4 linked regions of the Homo sapiens genome follow. The protein of the gene in region 1 purifies or fractionates together with the protein of each later gene. This does not show direct contact. Each region holds a gene or a part of one and is shown on either strand. Other genes may lie near its edges.

Region 1 (7,035 bases):
GCCACACACCAGCAATTTCTATCAGTGAGCCTACTGAATCTTCAGAAAAACCTTTTGAGCTGAGAAATCATTTTATGAAAGGTCTGGCTTCCAATCCTAGTTCATCCACTTACCAGATGGTGACCTTGGGCTACTCACTTATCACCTCTGTGTCTGTTTCCTCATCTGTACAAAGGAGATAATTCCCAGTCTAGTTATGGGGAGTACGTGAGTTAAGGCCTGGAAGCCCCTTTCTTCCAGAGAAGGAAACAGGCTAGAGAAGTTAAGTTCTTTGCTTGGTGCTACACAGCTAGAGTGTGGCAAACCTAGACACTATCTTGCCAATTGATACAGAACTAAGGCTGATAATCACAAACTAGTATAGCCATACCAATTGTTTAAATATTAAAATACTTCCAGATGGGTTGGTGTGTCACTGCTACACAAGTACTCCCTGTCCCTAACTGCCACTTTGGACCCCCCTTGTGGTATTATATATATAAATATATTGGTTTTCATCCACAGTTCCTGGCTGGTAACTCCTACAGCCTTTGTTACAGTCTCTTGTTATAATGTTGTGTACCTTAGGCCTGGGGCAGGTCTGAAGAAACAGAATCTCTCTGACCTCCTCCTGCCCTCCATTTCCTGCCCCAGGGCAAGACTCTAATCTTCCCCACCTTCTTGATTGTTGGTCTTAAGACACTTTTCAGAGAAGTCCATGCCCAATGCTGCTGTCTTAAAGCCTCCGTAAAAACCCAAGAGGACTGGGTTTGGAGAGCTTCCGCATAGCTAACCACCTGAGGGTTCCTGTAGGGTAGCACCCCAGGGAGGGCGTGAAGCTCCCTGCCCCTTCCCTTATACCTTGCCCTACACATCTCTTCATCTTTGTTCTTTGCAATATCCTCTATAATAAACCAGTAAATCTAAGTAAGCATTTCCTTGAGTTCTGTGAGCAGCTCCAGCAAAAATTTTTTTTTTGTAAGATGGGTCATCCAGGCTTGAGTGCAGTGGCAAGGTCACGGCTCACTGCAGCCTTGACCTTCCAGGCTCAATTTATCCTCCTGCCTCAGCCTCTCAGGTAGCTGGGACTATAAGCACATGCCACCACACCGGCTAACTTTTGTAATTTTTTTTTTTTTTTTAGAGACAAGTTTGCCATGTTGCCTAGGCTGGTGTCAAACTCCTGAGCTCAGGTGATCTGCCCACCTCGGCCTCCCAAAGTGCTGGGATTACAGGCATGGGTCACTGCGCCCGGCCTTATTTTTATTTTTTTAAAAAAGTCGGGTGTGGTGGCTCACGCCTGTAATCCCAGCACTTTGGAGGGCTGAAGTGGGCAGATTGCTTGAGCTCTGGGCAACATGGTGAAACCCTGTCTCTTCCAAAAATACAAAAATTAGCTGGGTGTGGGGACAGCGTTGGAATGGAATCGGAGGGGACACCTAGCTGTTGTCTGCTGTGTAGTGTGTGGGGAAAAAGCCCCACACATTTGGTCACAGAATTCTGTGTTGATGATTGTTGTGATAGTGTGAGAGTAGAGGAAAAACACAGTTTGAGGGTTTTTTTTCCCCATAACACTTCCCCAACCCCAGACCTCCCCATGGTCCAGCAACTAAAGGGTTAAGGCCTGGTATCCGTCCCGCTCCACTCTCAGTTCTGATTGGTGCCCACACCAGTCCCCACTGTTGAATATTTGGAGTGTCACCTCTCCCTACCCCACTGAATAAGAACCAGAAGGCAGCCTTGTTGCCCACATGCGGAAATTAAGACCTAGAGAGGGGGACGGGTGCGGTGGCTCATGCCTATAATCCCAGCACTTTGCGAGGTTGAGGCATGTGGATCACCTGAGGTCAGGAGTTCGAGCCCAGCCTGGCCAACATGGTGAAGCCCCATCTCTACTAAAAATACAAAATTAGCCGGGCGTGAGGACGCACACTTGTAGTTCCAGCTACTCGGGAAGCTGAGGTAGGAGAATTGCTTGAGCCTGGGAGGTGGAGGTTGCAGTGAGCTGAGATCACACCACTGCACTCCAGCCTGGGCAACAGAGAGAGACTCTGTCTCAAAAAAAAAAAAGACCTAGAGAGGGGCAGGGCTTGCAGTCAAGACCCTGTAGACAGTCAGGGACAGAGCTGGGGTCCTCTGTGCCCCATGCCAGCAGTGAGCACACAGTTGGGCTTGGTGGGGATGGGTGCTATGTAAAAATTTATTGAATCATCACAGGTCTTTCCTTTCCCCCTATCCAGCATCCCTCTCTACCTGCCAACATCCTGTATTAGAGAACTTGTGGCCGGAGGTGTGGCTGTGGAGAGCTGGCCGGGGAGGGACGCTGCTCAGCTGCTGCTCTGCTCCTGTCTCCTGTCCCCTCCCCCGGTCATGACAGAGACCCGTGAGCCAGCTGAGACTGGGGGCTACGCCAGCTTGGAAGAAGATGATGAAGACCTTTCCCCAGGTAAGGTGGCCTTAGAGGTGGTGGCGTCGGCTTGACTGTCATCCTGGCTTAGGGTTTGGCCCCCACTGGGAAATGTTGATGGGGAGTGGCTGCTTGTCTTGCTAGGGGTTCTATTCTGACTGAGACTGCTTGTCCTAGTAGGGGATCTCTTCCAGTCGGGACTTCTGGGGACTGTAGATTGACTGGGGTCGCTCTCCTTGCTAGAGGTTCTAGATTGGCTATGATTTCCTTCTTTGCTGGGGGTTCTAGATCGGCTATGAGCTTTCTCCTTGCTGGAGGCTCTAGGTCGACTGTAACCACTCTGCTTATTGGGGCTTCTAGATCGGCTGTGATCTCTCTCCTCGCTGGAGCTTCTAGATTGTCTGCGCTCTCTCTCCTTGCTGGGGCTTCTCCATCGTCTGCGATCTCTCTCTTTGCTGGGGCTTCTGGATTGTCTGTGCTCTCTCTCCTCGCTGGGGCTTCTAGATTGGCTGCGATCTCTCTCCTTGTTGGGGCTTCTAGATTGTCTGCGCTGTCTCTCCTTGCTGGGGCTTCTAGATCGTCTGTGATCTCTCTCTTTGCTGGAGCTTCTAGATTGTCTGCACTGTCTCTCCTTGCTGGGGCTTCTAGATCGTCTGTGATCTCTCTCTTTGCTGGGGCTTCCAAGTTGGCTGTGATCTCTTTCCTTGCTGGGGCTTCTAGATCGGCTGCGATCTCTCGCCTTGTTGGGACTTCTAGATCGGCTATGATCTCTTGCCTTGTTGGGACTTCTAGATCGGCTGCGATCTCTCGCCTTGTAGGGACTTCTAGATCGGCTGCAATCTCTCGCCTTGTTGGGACTTCTAGATCGGCTGCGATCTCTCGCCTTGTAGGGACTTCTAGATCGGCTGCGATCTCTCGCCTTGTTGGGACTTCTAGATCGGCTGTGATCTCTCTGCTTGTTGGGGCTTCCTGATTGACTGCGACCACTCTCCTTCCTGGGGCTGCTAGATCCCCTGTGATCTCTCTCTTTGCTGGAGCTTCTGGAATGGCTATGACTTCTTTCCTTGCTGGGGTTTCTAGACCAGTTGTGACTTCTTCCTCTTCTGGGGGTTCTAGATTGGTTTTGACTTTTCCCCTTGCTGTGGCTTCTAGACTGGCTGTGTCTTCCCATCTGGCTCAGAATTCCCTTCCGGGTGCGACTTCTTGCCCTGCTATGGTTTCTCTTCCAACTGTGACTTCTCACTCTGCTGTGCGTCCTCTTCTGACTGCCACTTCTTGACCTTCTGGGGCTTCTAGATTGGCTGTGACTTTGCGGCCTGCTGCGGGTGCTGGCCTGGTTATAACTCTTGACCCTGCTGGACATTTCAGTGGGGCTGTAACTCTTTTCCCTACTGGGGATGATCATCTGACCGTAGCTCTTCACCTTCCTTGATGAGGATGGAGATGGGTTGTCACTCTTCTCCTTGGAGGGAATTCCAGTCGGGGTTTGACACTTGGCTGTACTGGGAGTTACAGCCAGCTCGGAACTCCTCCCTATACCTGAGCCTCCTGGTGGGCGGTAACTCTTCTTGCTCAGATTTCTAGGCTGGCTGTCACTCCTTTCCCTGTTGCTGGTTCTAGGCCGGCCGTAACTCTTTCCCCGGCTCCCTTTTTGCTGTGAAGTGGGAGTTCTCACCCTGCTGGCCATGCCTGGTCTGGCACCATGAGTTCTTATCCTGCCAGGAGTGCTGGCCCTGCTGGGTGACCTCTTGGAGCTGCGGCTTCCCCTTCTGCCAGGTGTCCTACCCCGGCTGTGTGTGCCCCTCCGCTGGTGGCATCTCACGTCGCTGGCCTTGCTGGCTTTGCTGGTCCTGGTGTCGGTGCTCACCCTGCTGGGTGTTCTTGCTTTGCTGCGGACTCGGGACCTGCTGCTGGGCCGGTTAGAAGGGGCTCTTTTTGTACTGGTCGATTTGGTGGACTTGGAACTGCTTGGGCTCATGACTGAGTTACGGGATGTCGCTGGTTTGGTGGGCACTAAGGATCTGTTGGGTGTTGCTGATTTGGTGGACTTCAAGGAGGCAGGAGGCTTGGGATCCGCAGTGGGCATGGAGGATCCACTGGGTGCCAGAGACATACTGGGCTTTGAAGATCTCTTAGGTGAAGACATGGTGGGCGCAAAAGGGCTTGTGGTCCTGGAAGTCACAGTAGACATGAAACACCTGGTAGCCGTGGACGATGACCTGATTGCCTGTCACAGGCCAACTGTGTGAAGTAATAGTGGGCATTGAAGACTCTGGAGGGTGAGTGGTATGAAGTCAGAGGTGGGAGGAGAGAGGGGAGGGGTCCCAGCCTGAGGCTGGAGATATTTCCTCTGGTTTGCAGCCATTCAGCAGATGTCTTCTGAGGCTGACTCATGCCCAGCATTGCTGGGGACACAGAGATGGGGCAGACCCAGGCCCTGCCTTCAAGGAGCCCATAGTCAGTGGGTGGGGAGGGGGGCCACTGCCCAGAGTGGTCAGGGTGTGATGGAGAGCAGTGCAGGGGCCGGGGAGCCCATACGAGAGAGACACTGACCGCTTGGGGAGTCAGCGAGGACTTCACAGAGGAGGTGACATGAGCTTGGCTTTAAAAAGGAGCAGGAGTTTTGCCAGTAGAGAAAGAAAGGGTCAGGCTGGGCGCGGTGGCTCACACCTGTAATCCCAGCACTTTGGGAGGCTGAGGCAGGCAGATCACCTGAGGTCAGGAGTTCAAGACCAGCCTAACCAACAAGGTGAAACCCCATCTCTACCAAAAATATAAAAATTAGCCAGGTGTGATAGCACACGCTTGTAATCCCAGCTACTTGGGAGGCTGAGGTGGGAGGATCGCTTGAACCTTGGAGGCGGAGGTTGCAGTGAGCCAAGATCACGCCATTGCACGCCAGCCTGGGTGACAGCGAGACTCTCTCTCGAAAAAAAAAAAAATGAACGGGTCAACCAGGTGGGCGAGGAGCAGAGGCCAAGGCTTTGGGGAGGGAGATCAGGGTCTTGGGGCCACTATCATCCACTCACCCACACGTCCTCTGCTGCGGACCCCAAGATCATACCTGCCCTTGAGGAGTTCCCAGTCAGATAAGGGAGATACCCTGGGGGGCAGCTGACTGCAGTCAGCTTCTAGGGCAGTAACAGGAGGAGGTGCTGGGGCAGGGGAAGCTGGAGAGAGACCTGGCTGGGAGCCTGGGGCTTCAGGGTGGTGGCTTCACAGAGGACAGAGTTTGTGCTGGGTCTTGAAGGATGAGTAGGGGGTCACCAGGTGGATAGAGTGGGGAACAGCCCATACCAAGGCCTCAGGAAACGATTGTTAAATGGCAGGAACTAGTAGGAGAGAGCTGCAGGGACGGATGTTCAGAAGGAAAGAGTTATAACCTGTTCTGGGCTGGTGATGCTGGGGACCCAGCAGGAGGGTGGTAAAAAAAGTGACTGGCTGCCTGGGATGAGGAGGTCTGGGACGGCCTCACCAAAGAGGAAGGCCTCCCACTGGGTCCTAAAGGATGGTGGGAAAAACTAGGGCAGGACATTCCCACCAGAGGGAGGAACAGTGTGTGTGAAGCCTCAGAAAAGGTTTGTCAAATTCCATGCAGAGATATCCATGCCATAAATATGTCATAAGTACTTTCTTTGCACAAAGGAAGTGTTTTAGATGCTGGGGCCACAGCAGTGAACCAGACAAAGTCCCAGCTCTCGGGGACAGGCAGTAAACAAACACACAAGTAAATGTTGAATGCAGTGAGTCAGAAGATGGAGAAAAATGAGCCGGCTGCGGTGGCTCATACCTATAATCCCAGCACTTTGGGAGGCTGAGATGAGTGGATCACTTGAGGTCAGGAGTTTGAGACCAGCCTGGCCAACAAGGTGAAACCCCGTCTCTACTAAAAATACAAAAATTACCTGGGCATGCTGGTGCGCCCCTGTAATCCCAGTTACTTGAGAGGCTGAGGCAGAAGAATTGCCTGAACCCAGGAGGCGGAGTTTCCAGTGAGCTGAGATCACGCCACTGCACTCCAGCCTGGATGACAGAGCGAGACTCTATCTCAAAAGAAGATGGAGAAAAATCAAGCAGAGTAAGGGGCGTAGGGAGTGCTGGGGAGTGGCCAGGGCGTCACTGAGAAGGTGACACTTGAGAAGAGACATGGAATGGAGAGTGACATCGGCAGAAAGGGTGGCAAAGACCCTGAGGCAGGTATGGGCCTGGGGTGTTGGAAGGTGAGGAGCCTGGTATGAAGAGCCTGTGGCCACTGTGATGACAGGAGCAAGGGCGGAGCACAGGGTGCAGTAGCAGGATCCTCTGGGTTCTGGGAGAAACTGAGGAATGGGGCTGGGATGGATACAAGGTGAGGCTTTTGGCAGGCTCCTACCACCAAGGCCGAAGAAGCTGGTACTTCCCACACCGTGGTCACAGGGACCCCATCCCCAACCATTACTCTGTGTGTGCGCCCCCATAATGGCAGCTGATGTCGCCCTTTTCCGTATATCAACTATAAATTTTTCCCCTTTTCTTTTTTTTTTTTGGGAACGGAGTCTTGCTCTGTCACCCAGGCTGGAGTGCAGTGGTTCAATATTGGCTCATCGCAACCTCCGCCTCCCGGGTTCGAGCAATTCTCCTGCCTCAGAGTCCTGAGTAGCTGGGACTAT
Region 2 (7,234 bases), on another chromosome or scaffold:
CCATAAACTGTAGAAAAGAAACACTCTCCAGCTATGTAACTGAAAAGCTCAGCTTGGGACATCCATTAACCTTTGACTTTCTTTCTTAGAAAAAGTTTCTAAGTTGGCTACTGAAGACTGGAATAATTTTTAGGAGTACCACTATTAGGATCAAATTTCTTCAACATATCAGACTGGATTGGCTTTCAGATTCCTCCCCAGTATGTTACAGAGGCACATACGAGTTGATTTCTAAGGATCTGATTCAGGTTATTTGTTCTACTACTTGGGTTTCCCATCATCATCAAGATGGTTCAAACCATTATCCAGATGGTCCAAAAGAGAGACCAAAGCTATCAGTTCTGTTACTTCACTCTGGAAACCTGTGTTTTAGCTGAAGAAGCAAAATGTTCCAACACTGTCCAAATTAATATGAGCATTCTCTCTTTAGCACAAGGAATACGTTTCTGGAAATAGCAGTGTTAACTGTATAGTCTCTTTTGAAGTGCTGCACCAGTGTTGTAATGTAAGGTGGCAGAGTTTCCTTGAAATCTTCTGAAGGTATAAAATGTCTTTGCTCATCATTTCCTTTTTTTTTTTTTTTCTTTGAGATGGAGTCTCACTCTGTCACCCAGGCTGGAGTGATGTGGTGTGATCTCGGCTCACTGCAACCTCCACCTCCCGGGTTCAAGCGATTCTCCTGCCTCAGCCTCCTGAGTAGCTAGGACTACAGGCATGTGCCACCACGCCTGGCTAATTTTTGTATTTTTAGTAGAGATGGGGTTTCACCATGTTGGCCAGGCTGGTCTCAAACTCCTGATCTTGTAATCCACCCACCTCGGCCTCCCAAAGTGCTGGGATTACAGGCATGAGCCACCACACCTGGCCAGGATACCTTTTACAACGTCAAAAGACACTCCATTCCCTAATTGCCTGTTGATCTTTACCCTCTGTTTCCTCACCCATTTCCTCAAAGGTGCCTCCAGATCCTGCAAAACTCCCACTTTTACATTTAGCATGATAGACTTTCTGTATTCTTGGTGGCAGGCATAGCACCATCACTCATTTTATTGGGCATTATGGGTCAAAACTGTCTCCCAGGGCACAAACTAAATGACAGAAAAATAGAGAGGAGTAAGTAACACACCACAGAACTCAATCACCTGAAGCAGCAGCTTCACAACTCCCATCCTGGTCCAAGCTACCATCAACTCTCACCTGGATTATTGCAATAGCCTTCTATCTGGTCTCCCTGCATCTGCCCTTGCCTCTATTAGTTATTCTTCACAAGCAGCCACAGTGATCCTTTAAAAACGTGAGTCAGGCCGTGTCACTACTTGCTTTATGATCCTCCAGCAGCTTCATTTTCACTACAGGTAAAACCTAAACTTTGCTTCACTTTCTTCAGGTCTTTGCCCAAATGTCACCTTAACAAGGACTTCTCCAATCACCCCACATAAAATAGCAAATTCTCCACCCCCATGTCTGCACCACACTCCTAATTCCCCTATCCTGCCCTTTACCCTTCATAGCACCTATCACCATTTCATATAATCCATATTTATTTACATAATGTATATCAGATTGCATTTTCCAAGATGGCCACAAGATTTCCCTTTCCGCACACTTTCTTACAATGTGACATTTCCACTATTCCCGTTGAGAGATGGGGATCTATGCTCTCCATCCTGTAACTGTAATGGAAGTAACACTATATGACCTCTGAGACTAGGTCACGATCTCTGTCTGGTCCTTTTGGGGCACTCAGTCTTGGAACTCAGCCACTATGATATGAGGAAGCCCAGGCTACATGGAGAAGCCACTTGTAAATGGTCTGCCAACAACCCCAGCTGCGGTCCAAGCCAACAGTCAACCTCAACTTCCAGACATGTAAGGAAGCTTTTGAGATTACTTCAGCCCTAGCCACTGCATACGAGACTCCCAAGTGAGAACTGTTTAGCTGAGCCTAATTACCTCCCAGAACCATGAGAGGTAATGAAATTGTTGTTTTAAGCCACTAAGTTCGGGGTCATTTGTTATTTAACAATAGACAATAGAACAATTTGTTTATGTGTATATTTTATGTCTCTTTCCTTCTAGAGTATAAATCCCACAGATTCAGGTATTTGTTGTTGTTGTTGCTGCTGTATTCCCAGCACCTAAAACAGTGCCTAGTACATGTGCTCAATAATTTTTTTTTTTTTTTTGAGACAGGATCTTGCTCTGTCCCTCCCAGGCTAGAGTGCAAGTAGTGTCATCATAGCTCACTGCAGTCTCAAACTCCTGGCCTCAAGTGATCCTCCCAAGTCTTCCAAGTATCTAGGAATACCACAACCAGCTAATGAAAAAAATTTTTTGGGGCCAGGCACGGTGGCTCACGCCTGTAATCCCAGCGCTTTGGGAGGCGGAGGCGGGCAGATCACGAGGTCAGGAGTTCGAGACCAGCCTGCTTGGTGAAACCCCGTCTCTACTAAAAACAGAAAAAATTAGCCAGGCATCGTGGCGCACGCCTGTAGTCCCAGCTACTCAGGAGGCTGAGGCAGGAGAATTGCACCCAGCAGGCGGAGGTTGCAGTGAGCCGAGATCGCGCCACTTCACTCCAGCCTGGGGGAGAGAGCGAGACTCTGTTTAAAAAAAAAAAATTTTTTTTTGTAGAGATGGGATGTTGCTAAGTTGCCCAGGCTGCCCTCAGACTGCTGTGATCCTCCTCCCTTGGCCTTCCAAAGTGTTGGGATTACAGGTGTTAGCCACCATGCCCAGCCCCCAATAAATATTCATTGAATGAATGAATGGATGCATGATCCATTTTCAATAAAGCATGCTAACAGTTACTGGTCAACGGTATATGGCATAGTCTGCGCTAGATCTCATTGGCTGGGAGAATAAATTGACAGGGCATGGGGAAATATGTTGGAATTTTTCAAAGGTTAATAACGTAATATACATAATGTAAATATAACATATATAATGAATTATACTAATTACACGACAGTATAAAATAGGATTTGAGTTTCATGTAGTCTTTTGGTGATTGATCCCATAATCCTAATATGGGCTTCTCCAGATCAGGTCTGGAAAGTCTTCAGAAGTATTTTCAGAAGGATTTAGTGATTCTTCTCATTCAAATAATGAAGTCCTTCCTAAGCATCCTACACTAGTGGAAATCACTCACATGGTTTTGGTATGAAATGGAATGAAACTGGGTGGTGGCAGTGTGTGTATGTGTATGCACATGTGCACACTCACACGGGCAGGTGCATACAATTTGGAATGCCTACTTCCACTGCCTATTTTCAGTCTGGTGGTTTGAATGGAGTGTGTATATAAAGAGCACAAATAAACATAGTTCTGGATTTCCCCTTTCTGCACCAAGTACCTTGATTTCACATTTGGTTTGAAGCAAATATTTGTGTATTGCTTAAATAGCAAACATTTTCAAATATTCAAGGAAAATATTACATTTTTATAATCTCAGAAGGCAATAAAGGACAAAATTTCTTAGCTACCTGAAAAGAGGTAGTTTTTGTCTGGGGAAGAATAAACAGGTGGATGGTCGTTTGAGTGGACTAACCAATTTCTTTGAGCCAACCCATCTCAGCCTTGATTGGAGCAAAAAGCATAAGGATGTGGAGTGTGTGTGGTTTCTTGGAACTGGGGATCTCTGCTGAATCTACTCACAATGGGAGCAAAGCAGTTTCCATCACAATAATCGCTTTAACAATCGTGTGCCACTTCTTTCCAGGATCCAGAAGGGCTTGAGGATCAAAATGGCTTTTAAAAGTTCTTCACTTAAACAAGGCCGCAGCCACAAGGTTACTTGGCCGAGTGTCTCTTGAGAAAGAGTGAGTGCCATTTTGTTCTTTGTTCCAATGACAGTTGTTGGTGCCACTGGGCCTCACCACCTGGCCTGTGTCATGAAGTCTCCCTCTTGACTGGGTCTAAGCCTTGAGTGGAAAGTGGGGGAGCCTCCCAACACTTCCTTGGAAACTCTTGGCAAGTAAATTGGGGAATATTTTCTTTGGAAGTCTCATTTTTCTCACCAAAATTTAGATATAGCTTCTGAAGCTAATTATTCTTTTTTCATTACAAAAAATGTTTTCCTTTATTTATTTATTTGCAGGCCCAGCCAAACTTGACTAGAAAAGAAGCCCGGGCAGGGGTTTGGATGAGCCCATGACGTGCAGCGCGCTCCGACCAATTGGGAGGCCGTGAAAAAGGGGAGGGCGGAAGTGACGAGCCGTATCCCTCCGCGGGGCGAGAGGGTCGGTGGGGGGAGTCGGCGTCTCTCTCCCCCGCGCCAGCTCCCGTACACGGAGCCGCATTCCTTGGCCCCCCCACCCCCCTCCCTCGGGGCCCCCCCGCCCCCCTCGGGAAAAAAATCCACCCCGAATCACTCGAACCCGAGGGAGGCTTCCTTTCACCCTTGGGGAGACGAGCTTTCAACGGTTACCTCTTCTTCGTCTCCCCCCAAGCCCCCGTCCCCTCCCCCTGCTCCCACCCCCTTCTGGCGCCGGGTGTAAGGTCCCTTTAAGGCGACGGCGCCTTCCTCGGGTCAGACTACCGGCGGCGACGACCACAGGAGGTGAGTGAGCGAGCGAGCCTTCTCTCTCCCCACCCCCTGCTCCCGGGGGTTCCGTTATCTTTTCGCTCGGCGAGGCGTTCAGAGGCGAGACAATGAGAGGGGGATGGGGCCGGTACGCGCGGGGGTGGGGGCGGGGGGCCGGCGGTGCGCGCCCCCGCCCACCGCGAGTGGCGGCGCGGCCCGCGGCAGGGGCGGCCGCGGGGTGCGGCGCGCGAGCGCGAGTGTGTGTGCGTGCGCCCCGGGCCGCGGGAGCCGCGCGAAGGGCCGGCGGCGGAGGTCCCTGCCTGCCGGCTGGCCGGCCGCCCCCGCCCCCCGGCGCCCGCCGCGGCGCGCGCGCGCGCACTCGCGCCCCACGGCCCCGCACACAGCCCGACGTCCACACGCACGCTCGGCGCGAGGCGTCTCGGAGGAGTGGGCGGCGCGGGCGCGGGCGGTGGCCCGCTGGGGAAGGGGCGGGGGCGGGGGCGCGGGCGGTGGCGAGACGGCGGGGCGCGGCGGGAGGGGCCGGCGAGGGGGCGAGGCCGTGCGGCGGAGGGGCGGGCGGCGGCGGAGCGGCCCCTGGGGGTGGGGGTGCGCGGCCCTCCCCGCCCCATTCCCGCTCCGAGAAGGAGTGGGGCGCTCGTTTTGAGCGGGAGGAGGAAAATGAGTGATTGCTGAGCCGATCCCTTGTGTTATGTAATCTCTGCTTGGTCTAATAGTACATCCTAAGCCTTAGTGCACTGCAGCTAGTTTACGAAGTCTCCTCCCTCGGTCCCCAAATTTCTTTTGGGATGGCGCCGTGATTTATAAAATGGAATGAGGCGGGGAATCTTTATTTTCTGGTGATTATGTCCTGCCGCGGTGGGCGCCATGTTTATCCCGGGGACTATTTTATTTAGATTCTTGGCACCTTTTGCAAAGGAGTACTGTCATTGATCTATTTGTTTTCCGTCTTTCTGCGTGTTGTTCTTATTTCCTTCCTCTCCAGATGTGGGATTCTCTCAAACTGCTAGTAGCACTTGTCTTAGACATTCTTAGTTCAGAAAAAGGTAGTGCTGATGAGTCCTTAGAGTCATTTAGTGGCCAGTCTCATTTTCGAAATGGAAACTAAGATGCAGTTGGACTATCTCACAGCAGCCGCCGTCTTGATGCAAGCGGTGTAGCCCGTCCTTCCAAGCCCGTAGACACCTCTTACCGCCGCTCAAAACTCCACAGAAATGGGGTTTTACTTTTTTTTTTTTTTTTGAGACGAAGTTTCACTCTTGTCGCCCAGGCTGGTGTGCAGTGGCACGATCTCTGCTCACTGCAACCTCCGCCTGCCGGGTTCCAGTGATTCTCCTGCCTCAGCCTTCCTAGTAGCTGGGATTACAGGCATGTGCTACCACGCCCGGCTAATTTTTGTATTTTTAGTAGGGACGAGGTTTCACCATGTTGGCCAGGCTGGTCTTGAACGCCTGACCTCAGGTGATCCGCCCGCCTTGGCCTCCCAAAGTGCTGGGATTACAGGCGTCAGCCACCGCGCCCGGCCGGGTTTTACTTCTGTAGGCATTTACCCAACTAGAGGAAAGGGAAACGGAGGGGGCAGGGAGGGCTGCTCGTTGGCAAACGATTAATTTTGAGACACTATTGCTCAGGGTCTGAGAGCTTGAACTCTGAATTCGAACTGTTAGCACAATCGTTCTCAACTTCGGGGTGCATAAAAAGTAACTTGAAGGTGGTTAAACGTACAATTTGGGGGGCCTCATCCCCCAAATTTATTTGAATGGAGCAGAGGGGGGTTGTCATCTTTACATTTTCAAATGAGCAGTCCTGGGGCTGAGACTGATTAATGTAACCACTACATTGAGAATTACTGGTCTAACATAAAAGTGTTCAAGATGTTGAAACAAGTGACACCTTGTGCCGTTGATTTCCTTCCCTTTTCCAGAGCTGTGTTGGTGGTGTATCTCAAACTAAAGGAGGTAACAGAATGGACTCTTGGGACGAACCTGATTTAGTTAGAGTTTCCACTCCCATCTTGAACTAGTGGTATAATGTAGGAAAGCAGTTCTCAAAGTGTGGACAGATGACCCATGGGGATCTCCTCTTACCCTTTCAGGGTAGCCTCAAGGTCATAACTATTTTCAAAATAATAGTAAGATGCTATTTATTGTTTTCACTGATACACTGATGGTTCAAAAGCAAGGCTGGGTAAAACTACTGGCGGTACCTTAGCACAAAGCAAGTCAGGGGCACCAAACTACTTGAGAATGCCCTTGAAGCAGTAAAATTTATTATTCTATTTTTATTTTTTTGAGGCGGAGTTTTGCTCTGTCGCCCAGGGTGGAGTGCAGTGGCACTATCTCGGCTCACTGCAATCTCTTCCTCCCTGGTTGTATTTTTAGTAGAGACAGTGTTTCGCCATGTTGGCCAGGCTGGTCTCGAACTCCGGACCTCAGGCGATCCACCTGCCTCGGCGTCCCAAAGTGCTGGGATTACAGGCATGAGCCACCGTGCCCGGCCTATTATTATTAAGTCTTAGCTTTTGACTACATGTCTTTTTAATTTTTAAGAATTTGTGATTAAATAAACATGGATAAAGCATTTATGCTGCCTAGGGAGGTGTGATTGTTGTCATGAAGGAAAAGCATTTGTGAGATTGGGTTGTGAATGAATGGCTTATTTCATGGAGTAGCATTTTTACTTGAAAGAACG
Region 3 (3,355 bases), on another chromosome or scaffold:
ACGGCACAGCAACCTGGGTGACACAGCAAGGATCGGTCTCAAAATAAAAAACAAAAATAAAAAGAGAGAGATTTGAGTGTGGACACAGAGCCAAACCATATTACTAAATATTGTTAAGCTATCCCAACGGGCATATTAATAGGGAAGCCAGCGGGTGGGGAACTAGGACAAAACTGTTCCTTGTTAAAAAAATGTCTGGGAATAGCTAAAATAAACCCAGTACAGCATCTCAATCCTGGCTACACATCAGAATGCTTTGAGATTAAATGCCTCACACTGTTTAGAGGCAGGCAGGATAGGCAACCACTGGAATTAAAAAACCTTTCATATGAAAGGATGAGGTTTTTGACACAGAGTCCTCCCTATACACGCATTCCCCTAACTTACTTGACCACAGAACTTGGAGAAAACACAGCTAAGAAAATGCTGCTCCAGATAAGAAAACTATGTTGAAAACATGGAAATAATGGATCTGTATATCATACAATGAAAACTACACAAAAGAAAACACACATGAAGATGTTGCTGACATGAAAACCTTTCTTTTTAATTTGGTTGATACACATTTGACAAAATATTTTAGAATAAAATAATCCATGAACAGGTACAAGGTATTTACAGTAACATAATTGAAAAACATAAAATCGATATATTTCTTTAACAGAAATGTCTATAAAATTTTCTACTGTGAATCTGGAAGACTTTCAGTTCCTACTTATCAACCTGGTCTTAAGCCCCAACAGGCGACATGTAAGGCCCAGGAGTAGGATATACAAACTCTAACACATTTGGCAATTAAGAATCATCTATTAGTGTGAGCTGGCAGGCGGTGGGTGGGGGGTGGGGATGGGGAGGGAAGAACCAGATCTTAGGGTAAGATACAGAATGGAAGACTCCACTGAAAACAACTATGGACAAGAAAGATCTAAAATCACACTTATCTTTCACTTGTCTCCTGTGGGAGAAGGCTGCAAACTATTTTAAAGACTTAGTCAATTTTTCCCATTAGCAGAAAATCAGCAACCCTGAGACTCCAACATTTCATGACATAAAAGCTAATAAACATCTAGAAGCTGATTAAGATTTATAAACTAATTTTACATCAGATAGAAAATAACTCTTATGATTTAAAAATACATGTAAGGAAACAAAATTTCTCAAATTTATTTTTCATGCCTAATTCTTAAACATTTCAACTAATATTTTCTATTGTCTGAAATTAGTTCCACACACAGATACACTTTAACTGAATGCTTTGAGTACAACTTGCTCTTGATTATTAAATGGAATGCCTACTTCCTTGTATTATTATTCATACATATTTAAAAGAAATGAGAAGTTTAATCCATCTGGACTATACAGAAATTTATTGACTTACAAGATAGTCACATAGACAGAGACCAGAAAAAAATGATCAAATGCTCATTCTTAGTAACACAACTGAGACAGTGAAACACGGTACACCATACATGTCATCTACTGATCCAACTATGCTATCTGATAAGCTATACTTACAAAGAATGGTTCCAACAAACACCTTTGTAGAACAAATATTCACACTGTGTTATCAAATTTGCTGCTCCTCCAGTGGCGGTTCAAGAGCTTCCATTAGCTTTTTATTTGCCTCTTCATTATGCCGGCTTTGACAATGAGTTAAATGTTTCTTAAAACCTCTTGGGAAATTTGATTCAAAATTACAACGTGGACATTTAAGTAAACTTTGCCCATGGGCTGCTACATGATTTTTAAGGAGAGATTCCAAAAGAAAAGCCTTTCCACAGATTGTGCATTTGTAAGGGCTATGAACATTATGCTTATTAACCAAATGATGCAAAACAGCACCTTTTTTCATAGCACGACAGCAACAAATTTTGCAATAATACTTTCCTTTTCCACGCTTCATGTATTTTGCAATCTCCTCTTCAGAGATAAAAGCTTCTTTTTCTTCAGTAAACTGTAGCACATTTCTAGACTGCTCTGGACTAGTCATGTCCATTTTGTTCTCTTTGCTAAAATCAATGGATTCCACATCAACCTGCTCTTGATCACTGCTTGATTCCTGGCCCTTAATATCCATCGCATCCAAATCTGTTTTTATGTACTCACTACTACTAAGCTCAGCGTCTGAGCTCTCTTGGTTGTCTTTCTTGAGCTTCTTTGAGGAAGGAAATAAAGTATCTTCTAAGAGTTTCTTAGGTGAAGCTAGAAGTTCTTCCTGAACCAAAATATCACATTTTTGATCATCTATGGCATCTATTTGTAGTTCATCACCAAGCTCAACAGCCTTCTGTGATTCTGAGAATAGAGCAGATTTGGGGAGTTCAGGGAAAAGGGCATGCTTCCGGGGCTCTGGAAAAAGGGCACGTTTGCGTGCTTCTGGAGAAGCAGGAGGGGCTGTTTTGGCAGGCTCGGGAAACAGGGCAGGTTTTCTAGGCTCAGTATCGATAGAGAGAACAGGCTTCCAGATATCTGAGGCTGCTTTGGGGGACTCAGATGGCCCAGAAGGACCTGGTTTTCGGGTCTCAGGGAAGACAGGTTTCTGAGGCTCAATAAAAAAGGAAGACTTCCAGAGATCAGGAGAACCACCACGGGAACTTTTCTGGGACTCAGGGAAATCAAGTGAAGCAGGAGAAGTTTTCCGCTGATCAGGAGAAAGCTTCCAAAGATCTGGTGACCCTGAGGGTTTTCTGAGCTCTGGAGATCCTGCTGGACTACGGATCTCTGGGGATAGTGGTGGGCCGGGTTTGCGAAGCTCTGGAGACACTGGGGGAACTGCCTTCCAATGTTCAGGAGACAACGTGGGAGCTGTCTTTCGGAGTTCTGGTGGGCCAGACTTCCATGACTCAGGAGATGCAGGGGGAGACTTCCAGGAGCTGGGTGAGACTGATGAAGATTTCCAGGATGCAGAAGACACAGATGGAGTTGGTTTCCAAGGTCCAGGAGATACAGAAGGAATTGGTTTCCAAGGTCCAGGAGACACAGATGGAGCAGGTTTAGCTGGCTTCCAAGGTCCTGATGATGCTGAAGGATTGGATTTCCAAGGCCTAGGGGACCCAGGTGGCCCTGGTTTCCAAGAGCCTGGTGACACAGCGGGGGCTGGTCTCCTAGGCTCTGGGGAGACAGCAGGGAACGGCTTCCAAGGTTCAGGAGACTCTGAAGGGGATGGCTTCCTTGGCTCAGGGGAGGTAGTCCGGGCTGACTTCCGAGATTCTGGAGATGCAGCTGGGGATGGTCCCCAAGGTTCTGGGGAAGCAGCTAGAACTGGTGACTCTGGAGATGAGGCTGAAGGTGGCCCCAATGTTTCCGGGAAATGAGACTGCTTCTGGGGTTTGGGATTACTAAGAGTAGCCTTTAC
Region 4 (7,035 bases), on another chromosome or scaffold:
ATTTCTTTCTTTTTAAAGCTGAATAAGGCTGAGCATGGTGGCTAACACCTGTAATCCCAGCAGCTCAGGAGGCTGAGGCAGAAGGACTGCTTGAGGCCAGAAGTTGGAGACCTGGGCAATTTACTGAGATCCTGTCTCTACAAAAAATTAAAAACTAGCTGGGTGTGGTGACATGTGCCTGTAGTCCTAGCTATTCAGGAGGCTGGGTGGGAGGATCCCTTGTGCCTAGGAGTTCACGGTTGTGGTGAGCTATGATCATGCCACTGTGCATCAGCCTGAACTAGAGGGTAAGACCCCATCTCTTTAAAAAACAAAACAAAAGCTAGGCGCGGTGGCTCACGCTTGTAATCCCAGCACTTTGGGAGGCCAAGGCAGGCGGATCACGAGGTCAGGAGATCGAGACCATCCTGGCTAACACGGTGAAACCCCGTCTCTACTAAAAATGCAAAAACAAAATTAGCCAGGTGTGGTGGTGGGCGCCTGTAGTCCCAGCTACTCGGGAGGCTGAGGCAGGAGAATGGCATGAACCCGGGAGACGGAGCTTGCAGGGAGCCGAGATCGTGCCACTGCACTCCAGCCTGGGCGACAGAACGAGACCTCATCTCAAAAACACACACACACACACACACACAAAAACTGATTAATATTCCATTGTATGGATGTATTACATTTTGTTTATTCATCAGTTAATGGACACTTGTTATATCAGTTGGGGTTCTCCAGAGAAACAAAACCTATAGGATGTTTTGTAAATCTCTTTATACCAAGATATTTATTTTTTATTTTATTTATTTATTTTTTTTGAGACAGAGTCTTGCTCTGTCACCCAGGCTGGAGTACAGTGGCGCGATCTTGGCTCACTGCAAGCTCCGCCTCCCGGGTTCACGCCATTCTCCTGCCTCAGCCTCCCGAGTAGCTGGGACTACAGGCGCCCACCACCATGCCCAGCTAGTTTTTTTTGTATTTTTAGTAGAGATGGGGTTTCACCATGTTAGCCAGGATGGTCTTGATCTCCTGACCTCATGATCTGCCTGCCTCGGCCTCCCAAAGTGCTGGGATTACAGGTGTGAGCCACCACGCCCGGCCCTAAGAGATTTATTTTAAGGAATTGTTTCATGGGATTATGGATACCAACGAGATCTGCAGTCAGCAAGCCGGAGGCCCAGGAGAGCTGGTGGTGTGGTTTTATTCTACAGGCCATCAGGCCACCAGGCAGAAGGAGTTCCCTCTTCCTCACCGGAGGGTCACCCTTTTTCTTCTCTTCAGGCCTTCTGCTGATTGGATGATGCCCATCCACACTGGGGAGGGCCATCTGCTTTACTCAGTCCACCAGTTCAATGCTCATTTCACCCAGAAACCCTCACAGACACACCCAGAATAATGCTTGACCAAGTGTCTGGGCACTCAGGCCCAGTCCAGCTGGCATATACAATTAGCCATCACACTTAGGTTGCTTCCACCTTGTAGCTGTTGGGAATAATGCTACTGTGAACATGGGTGTCATAAACTTCGTTTTGCTAGGAAGCGTTTCCTTAGTCACCCCCAACTATGTTCTTTCCTTATTCTGCCTTTCATCATCTGACATTATTTGTCCTGAGTCTTTGTCCTTCTCCCTTTTCTACCCTCTCCCCCTACTGTGGTTCTGAGAAGAATTTAATGCAGTTTACTCAGTGCATTTGTTTTCAATGCATGTTGCTTTATAAATGTTCTCAGGTGGGTGGAGGGCATGGTGCATGGACCTTCTTTTTCCTGGGACCCTAGCCCCTTCTCCCTGGGCCTTGAGAAGGCTTTGTCTGGAAGTGCTCAGAGTGGCATCCCTCCCTCCCTTCCTCTTCCAAGGAGATCCTGCTGGGCTCCCATCTTTAGGGCTCCTTGTCCTTAGTTGTGTTCTGGGCTCGTGCATAGAGCTGCTCTGCTTCCATGATGATTCTCCTCCTAGTTCTCTGTTAGGACCTAACATGGTGGTCAGTCTAACAGTCTCCTAGTGACCACTGTATGATGGTGACTGCACTCTTGCCTCATTATTAGCTAAACTGGAATGCTAGCTGGCCATTTCCATCCTGTATCATTCCATACTTTGTCTTGAAATCCTAGATAAAAGACTTGAACCACCACCCTGCTCACAGCACCCATTATACAGATGAGAAAACTAAGGCTTGGCAAGGGGAGTCACATGATGCTAGGGGAGGACTTTCCCCCAGCACCACACAGCCTCTTTTGACCTTCAGGGAATGGGTTGAGAATATTGGTTGGTTCTGGCTGCCATTCTTGTATGGTTTTGTGTTCCCTTTTCCTTTTTTTTCTATTTTTACCTGGGCTGAAAAGTCGATGACATAGTTTTTTCAGACTTTGTCTCTGAGGCCAGTTAGAAGTATATTTTACCTTGCAACCCAATGGATACACACAACTGAAACACTGTCTACCCTTATTTTCTGTCATGTATTCTGATATTTTCTATTCTATTTTATTATACAGTAGTCCCCCCTTATCAGCAGGGGACATGTTCCAAGATCCCCAGTGGACGCCTGAAGCCACAGATAGTACTGAACCCTGTATATACTATGCGTGAATTTTTTTTCCTTCTTCACAATTTCACGGATAGAAGATTTGTTCTTACAGGAGATCTTAGCAACCTCAGCATGCAATTTATTTTCTTTGTAAGTCAAGAGCTTTCACCTTTTCACTTAAAGCTGGCCAGGTGCAGTGGCTCACACCTGTAATCCCAGCACTTTTGGGAGGCTGAGGCAGGTGGATCACTTGAGGTCAGGAGCTCGAGACCAGCCTGGCCAACATGATGAAACTGTCTCTACTAAAAATACAAAAATTAGCTGAGTGTGGTGGTGCATGCCTGAAGTCCCAGCTACTTGGGAGGCTGAGACAGGAGAATCACTTGAACCTGGGAGGTGGAGGTTGCAGTGAGCCGAGATTGCACCAGTGCACTCTAGCCTGGTGACAGAGCAAGACTCTGTCTCAAAAAAAGAAAGCACTTTATGGCTTCTCTTTGGCATATCTGAATTGCCAACATCACTACTCTTGCTCTGTGGAGTCATAATGAAGTCAAATATGGGTTACTTGAATACAAGCACTGTGATACAACTATAGTGAACTGATAACCAAGACAGCTACGGACAGCTACTGAAAGACTAATGGGACGTTAGTGCATACAGTGTGGATATACTGCACAAAGGGATAATCTGCATCCTGGGCAGCACTGAATGGGACATAGCAAGATTTTATCATGCTACTCGGAATGGTACACTATTTAAAAACTTATGAATTATTTCTGGAATTTTCCATTTAATATTTTTGGACTGTAGTTGACCACAGGTAACTGAAACCATTGTGGATAAGGGTGGACTACTGCATTTAATTTAAAGAAATCCTAGTTCCAGCCCACTACATTGGGTTTAGGACTCATAATGGGTTGAAATTTTGATCTGAAATATATTGTTGTGTCATATCCATCGCTCCATCCTCTTCCATAGTATATCATTTCATTATTTCTTTCCTCAAACTTGGCCATGGCCTCTTTTTTTAAAACAAGAGACAGGGTCTCACTCTGTTCCCCAGGCTTGAGTGCAATAGTGCCGTCATAGCTTACTGCAGCCTCAAATTCCTGGGCTCACGCGATCCTCCCACTTGAGCCTCCCAAGTAGGTAGGACTACAGGTGTGCACTGCCACGCCCAGCCAATTTTTAAATTTTTTTGTAGAGATGGGGTCTCATCACGTTGCTGAGGCTGGTCTCAAACTCCTGGCCTCAAGTGATCCTCCTTAATTGGCCTCCCAAAGTTCTGGGATTACAGGCATGAGCCACCGTGCCCAGCCACCATGGCCTCTCTTGATCCCAAACCGTCATGGGCTGTTCCCTCTTCCTGCAGTGCTCGTTCTATCTTTAACCTGCAGTACTTGCCTCACTGACTCCTCTTCATCCTTGGCCTCAACTCCTTTCTTCAGGGAGGGTCTTGCTCACCCCTCACTGTAAACTCCCACAGCTCCTTGCTTTTTTTTTTTTTTTTTTTTTTTTTGAGACCATCTCCCTCTGTTACCCAGCTAGAGTGCAGTGGTGTGATCACAGCTCACTGCAGCCTCGACCTCCTGCCTTTCCCCTGCTGAATGACTGTCTTCCCCATTAGAGAGAGCTCGCGAGGGCGGGTGCTCTGATGCCTTACTCTCTGTTGAATTTCAAAACTGTTTGTAGAATTGAGTTGAAAGGAATGCCTTTCCCCCCTTTCTGGATGTCACTGGGATGTCCTGTGTAACCTCTTCTTCCTTCCATCTTTCCATCCTTGCCCTTCCTAGTTCTTGGCACAGCTGAAGATCATGGACTACAGCCTGCTGGTGGGCATCCACGACGTGGACCGGGCAGAGCAGGAGGAGATGGAGGTGGAGGAGCGGGCAGAGGACGAGGAGTGTGAGAATGATGGGGTGGGTGGCAACCTACTCTGCTCCTATGGCACACCTCCGGACAGCCCTGGCAACCTCCTCAGCTTTCCTCGGTTCTTTGGTCCTGGGGAATTCGACCCCTCTGTTGACGTCTATGCCATGAAAAGCCATGAAAGTAAGTCAGAGCCTGCGCCTGCTCTGCACAGCCCTGCCCTCATCCTACCCCCTCAGCTCATTGTTTAGATCCTTCTAGGGGCATCTGGACCTCCACCTCATTCATTGCTGCCTTTGACCTCTTTCTGCCTCCAGATTCCCATCCAGGGTCACCACCTGAACCTGGGGCTCCTCCTCTGCCAGGCTTTCCTATACTTCCCTGCTTGTCCTGGCTGACTGAAGAGTGGTTCTGCTCTGGTTCATGAGATGAACCAAACTTTATTCATACTGTCCTGTCAGCCCCACAGAGTGACTGTGAAGATCCAATAAGATAAGAGCTATGACAGCTGGAAAGGACTCCACTGGTCCTTTTCTCAGCCCCAACATGATAAGGATGGAGCTGAGCCTTGTGTCTGGGGGTTGTAGCAGTGCCCAGCTGCTGTCTGCCCTTCTCCTGCCCCCTCTTCCTTCTTCCCTGCTCTCCTTGTCCCTCCAGGTTCCCCCAAGAAGGAGGTGTATTTCATGGCCATCATTGATATCCTCACGCCATACGATACAAAGAAGAAAGCTGCACATGCTGCCAAAACGGTGAAACACGGGGTGAGTCCTCTCCATCTTCATCCAGGGCCCAGCTGGGTCGGTGCATCTGTGCTTACCCTCAGACCCCAGGGAGGGCAGTCTCAGGCCTCCTGCTCCAAGGAACACACTCCTGTCTCCTTCTTCCCAGGAGAGCAGACTGGAAGAGCAGCCTGCCTGCCTTGCCATGTTCCCTGCCTTCACCCACCTGCTCCCTGCCAGGCTGGGCCCAATTTGTTTATCCCCCAGTTCTCCAGCCCTCGGGGCCAAGCCTGCCAGTGTCTTTCCCCAGGGCCTGCTGGGCCTGTTGTGCATCTTGTTGAAGGGCGAGTAATAGCTTTGTTTCCATGCCCATACTGCTCCCCACAGGCCTGTTTCCCTGTGGGCCTGAAGCCCTGTTCTCCATGTAGTGGCCCCCACAGAGATCCAGAGCCGCGTTGCCACCTCCCCACTGCCTTTCTTCTACTTCGGTGCAGGCCTGGGGTTATAAATCACAGGAGTGGGGCCAGGACAGTTCAGGACTTGTATGCCACTTCCTGAGGTGGTCTGCTCAGTCTTGGTGGGGTTGGGGGTGGTATTCAGCTCTGATACTGAGTAAGAGGCTTCTGAATACCCTGGCTCCCCCCATGTGCAGCCTCCTGATTGGGGCACAGGAACTCAACCTGAATCAGCCTCTTGTGTATTACAGGCAGGGGCCGAGATCTCGACTGTGAACCCTGAGCAGTACTCCAAACGCTTCAACGAGTTTATGTCCAACATCCTGACGTAGTTCTCTTCTACCTTCAGCCAGAGCCAGAGAGCTGGATATGGGGTCGGGGATCGGGAGTTAGGGAGAAGGGTGTATTTGGGCTAGATGGGAGGGTGGGAGCAGAGTCGGGTTTGGGAGGGCTTTAGCAATGAGACTGCAGCCTGTGACACCGAAAGAGACTTTAGCTGAAGAGGAGGGGGATGTGCTGTGTGTGCACCTGCTCACAGGATGTAACCCCACCTTCTGCTTACCCTTGATTTTTTCTCCCCATTTGACACCCAGGTTAAAAAGGGGTTCCCTTTTTGGTACCTTGTAACCTTTTAAGATACCTTGGGGCTAGAGATGACTTCGTGGGTTTATTTGGGTTTTGTTTCTGAAATTTCATTGCTCCAGGTTTGCTATTTATAATCATATTTCATCAGCCTACCCACCCTCCCCATCTTTGCTGAGCTCTCAGTTCCCTTCAATTAAAGAGATACCCGGTAGACCCAGCACAAGGGTCCTTCCAGAACCAAGTGCTATGGATGCCAGATTGGAGAGGTCAGACACCTCGCCCTGCTGCATTTGCTCTTGTCTGGATTAACTTTGTAATTTATGGAGTATTGTGCACAACTTCCTCCACCTTTCCCTTGGATTCAAGTGAAAACTGTTGCATTATTCCTCCATCCTGTCTGGAATACACCAGGTCAACACCAGAGATCTCAGATCAGAATCAGAGATCTCAGAGGGGAATAAGTTCATCCTCATGGGATGGTGAGGGGCAGGAAAGCGGCTGGGCTCTTGGACACCTGGTTCTCAGAGAACCCTGTGATGATCACCCAAGCCCCAGGCTGTCTTAGCCCCTGGAGTTCAGAAGTCCTCTCTGTAAAGCCTGCCTCCCACTAGGTCAAGAGGAACTAGAGTACCTTTGGATTTATCAGGACCCTCATGTTTAAATGGTTATTTCCCTTTGGGAAAACTTCAGAAACTGATGTATCAAATGAGGCCCTGTGCCCTCGATCTATTTCCTTCTTCCTTCTGACCTCCTCCCAGGCACTCTTACTTCTAGCCGAACTCTTAGCTCTGGGCAGATCTCCAAGCGCCTGGAGTGCTTTTTAGCAGAGACACCTCGTTAAGCTCCGGGATGACCTTGTAGGAGATCTGTCTCCCTGTGCCTGGAGAGTTACAGCCAGCA

The links.
Region 2: the proteins of ZNF428 (region 1) and POGZ purify together in Homo sapiens (affinity purification with mass spectrometry; 4 studies listed by BioGRID and IntAct, with this or other methods). This does not show direct contact.
Region 3: the proteins of ZNF428 (region 1) and CHAMP1 purify together in Homo sapiens (co-immunoprecipitation; 3 studies listed by BioGRID and IntAct, with this or other methods). This does not show direct contact.
Region 4: the proteins of ZNF428 (region 1) and PIP4K2B purify together in Homo sapiens (co-immunoprecipitation; 3 studies listed by BioGRID and IntAct, with this or other methods). This does not show direct contact.

What each region holds. Positions count from the first base shown.
Region 1 is NC_000019.10:43,609,619-43,616,653, reverse strand, and holds part of ZNF428 (zinc finger protein 428), read left to right. Parts: intron 1-2,155; exon of another isoform or gene 2,156-2,219; 5' UTR 2,220-2,349; coding exon 2,350-2,425; coding exon of another isoform or gene 2,426-4,532; exon of another isoform or gene 4,533-4,566; intron 4,567-7,035. Other genes in the region: SRRM5 (serine/arginine repetitive matrix protein 5), read right to left, coding at 2,385-4,532.
Region 2 is NC_000001.11:151,456,479-151,463,712, reverse strand, and holds the start of POGZ (pogo transposable element with ZNF domain), read left to right. Parts: upstream 1-4,218; 5' UTR 4,219-4,561; exon of another isoform or gene 4,562-4,653; coding exon of another isoform or gene 4,654-4,673; intron 4,674-7,234. UniProt on the Homo sapiens protein: Plays a role in mitotic cell cycle progression and is involved in kinetochore assembly and mitotic sister chromatid cohesion.
Region 3 is NC_000013.11:114,324,494-114,327,848, reverse strand, and holds the end of CHAMP1 (chromosome alignment-maintaining phosphoprotein 1), read right to left. Parts: coding exon 1,568-3,355; 3' UTR 527-1,567; downstream 1-526. UniProt on the Homo sapiens protein: Required for proper alignment of chromosomes at metaphase and their accurate segregation during mitosis. Involved in the maintenance of spindle microtubules attachment to the kinetochore during sister chromatid biorientation.
Region 4 is NC_000017.11:38,768,538-38,775,572, reverse strand, and holds part of PIP4K2B (phosphatidylinositol 5-phosphate 4-kinase type-2 beta), read left to right. Parts: intron 1-4,300; coding exon 4,301-4,559; intron 4,560-5,033; coding exon 5,034-5,137; intron 5,138-5,801; coding exon 5,802-5,882; 3' UTR 5,883-7,035. UniProt on the Homo sapiens protein: Participates in the biosynthesis of phosphatidylinositol 4,5-bisphosphate. Preferentially utilizes GTP, rather than ATP, for PI(5)P phosphorylation and its activity reflects changes in direct proportion to the physiological GTP concentration.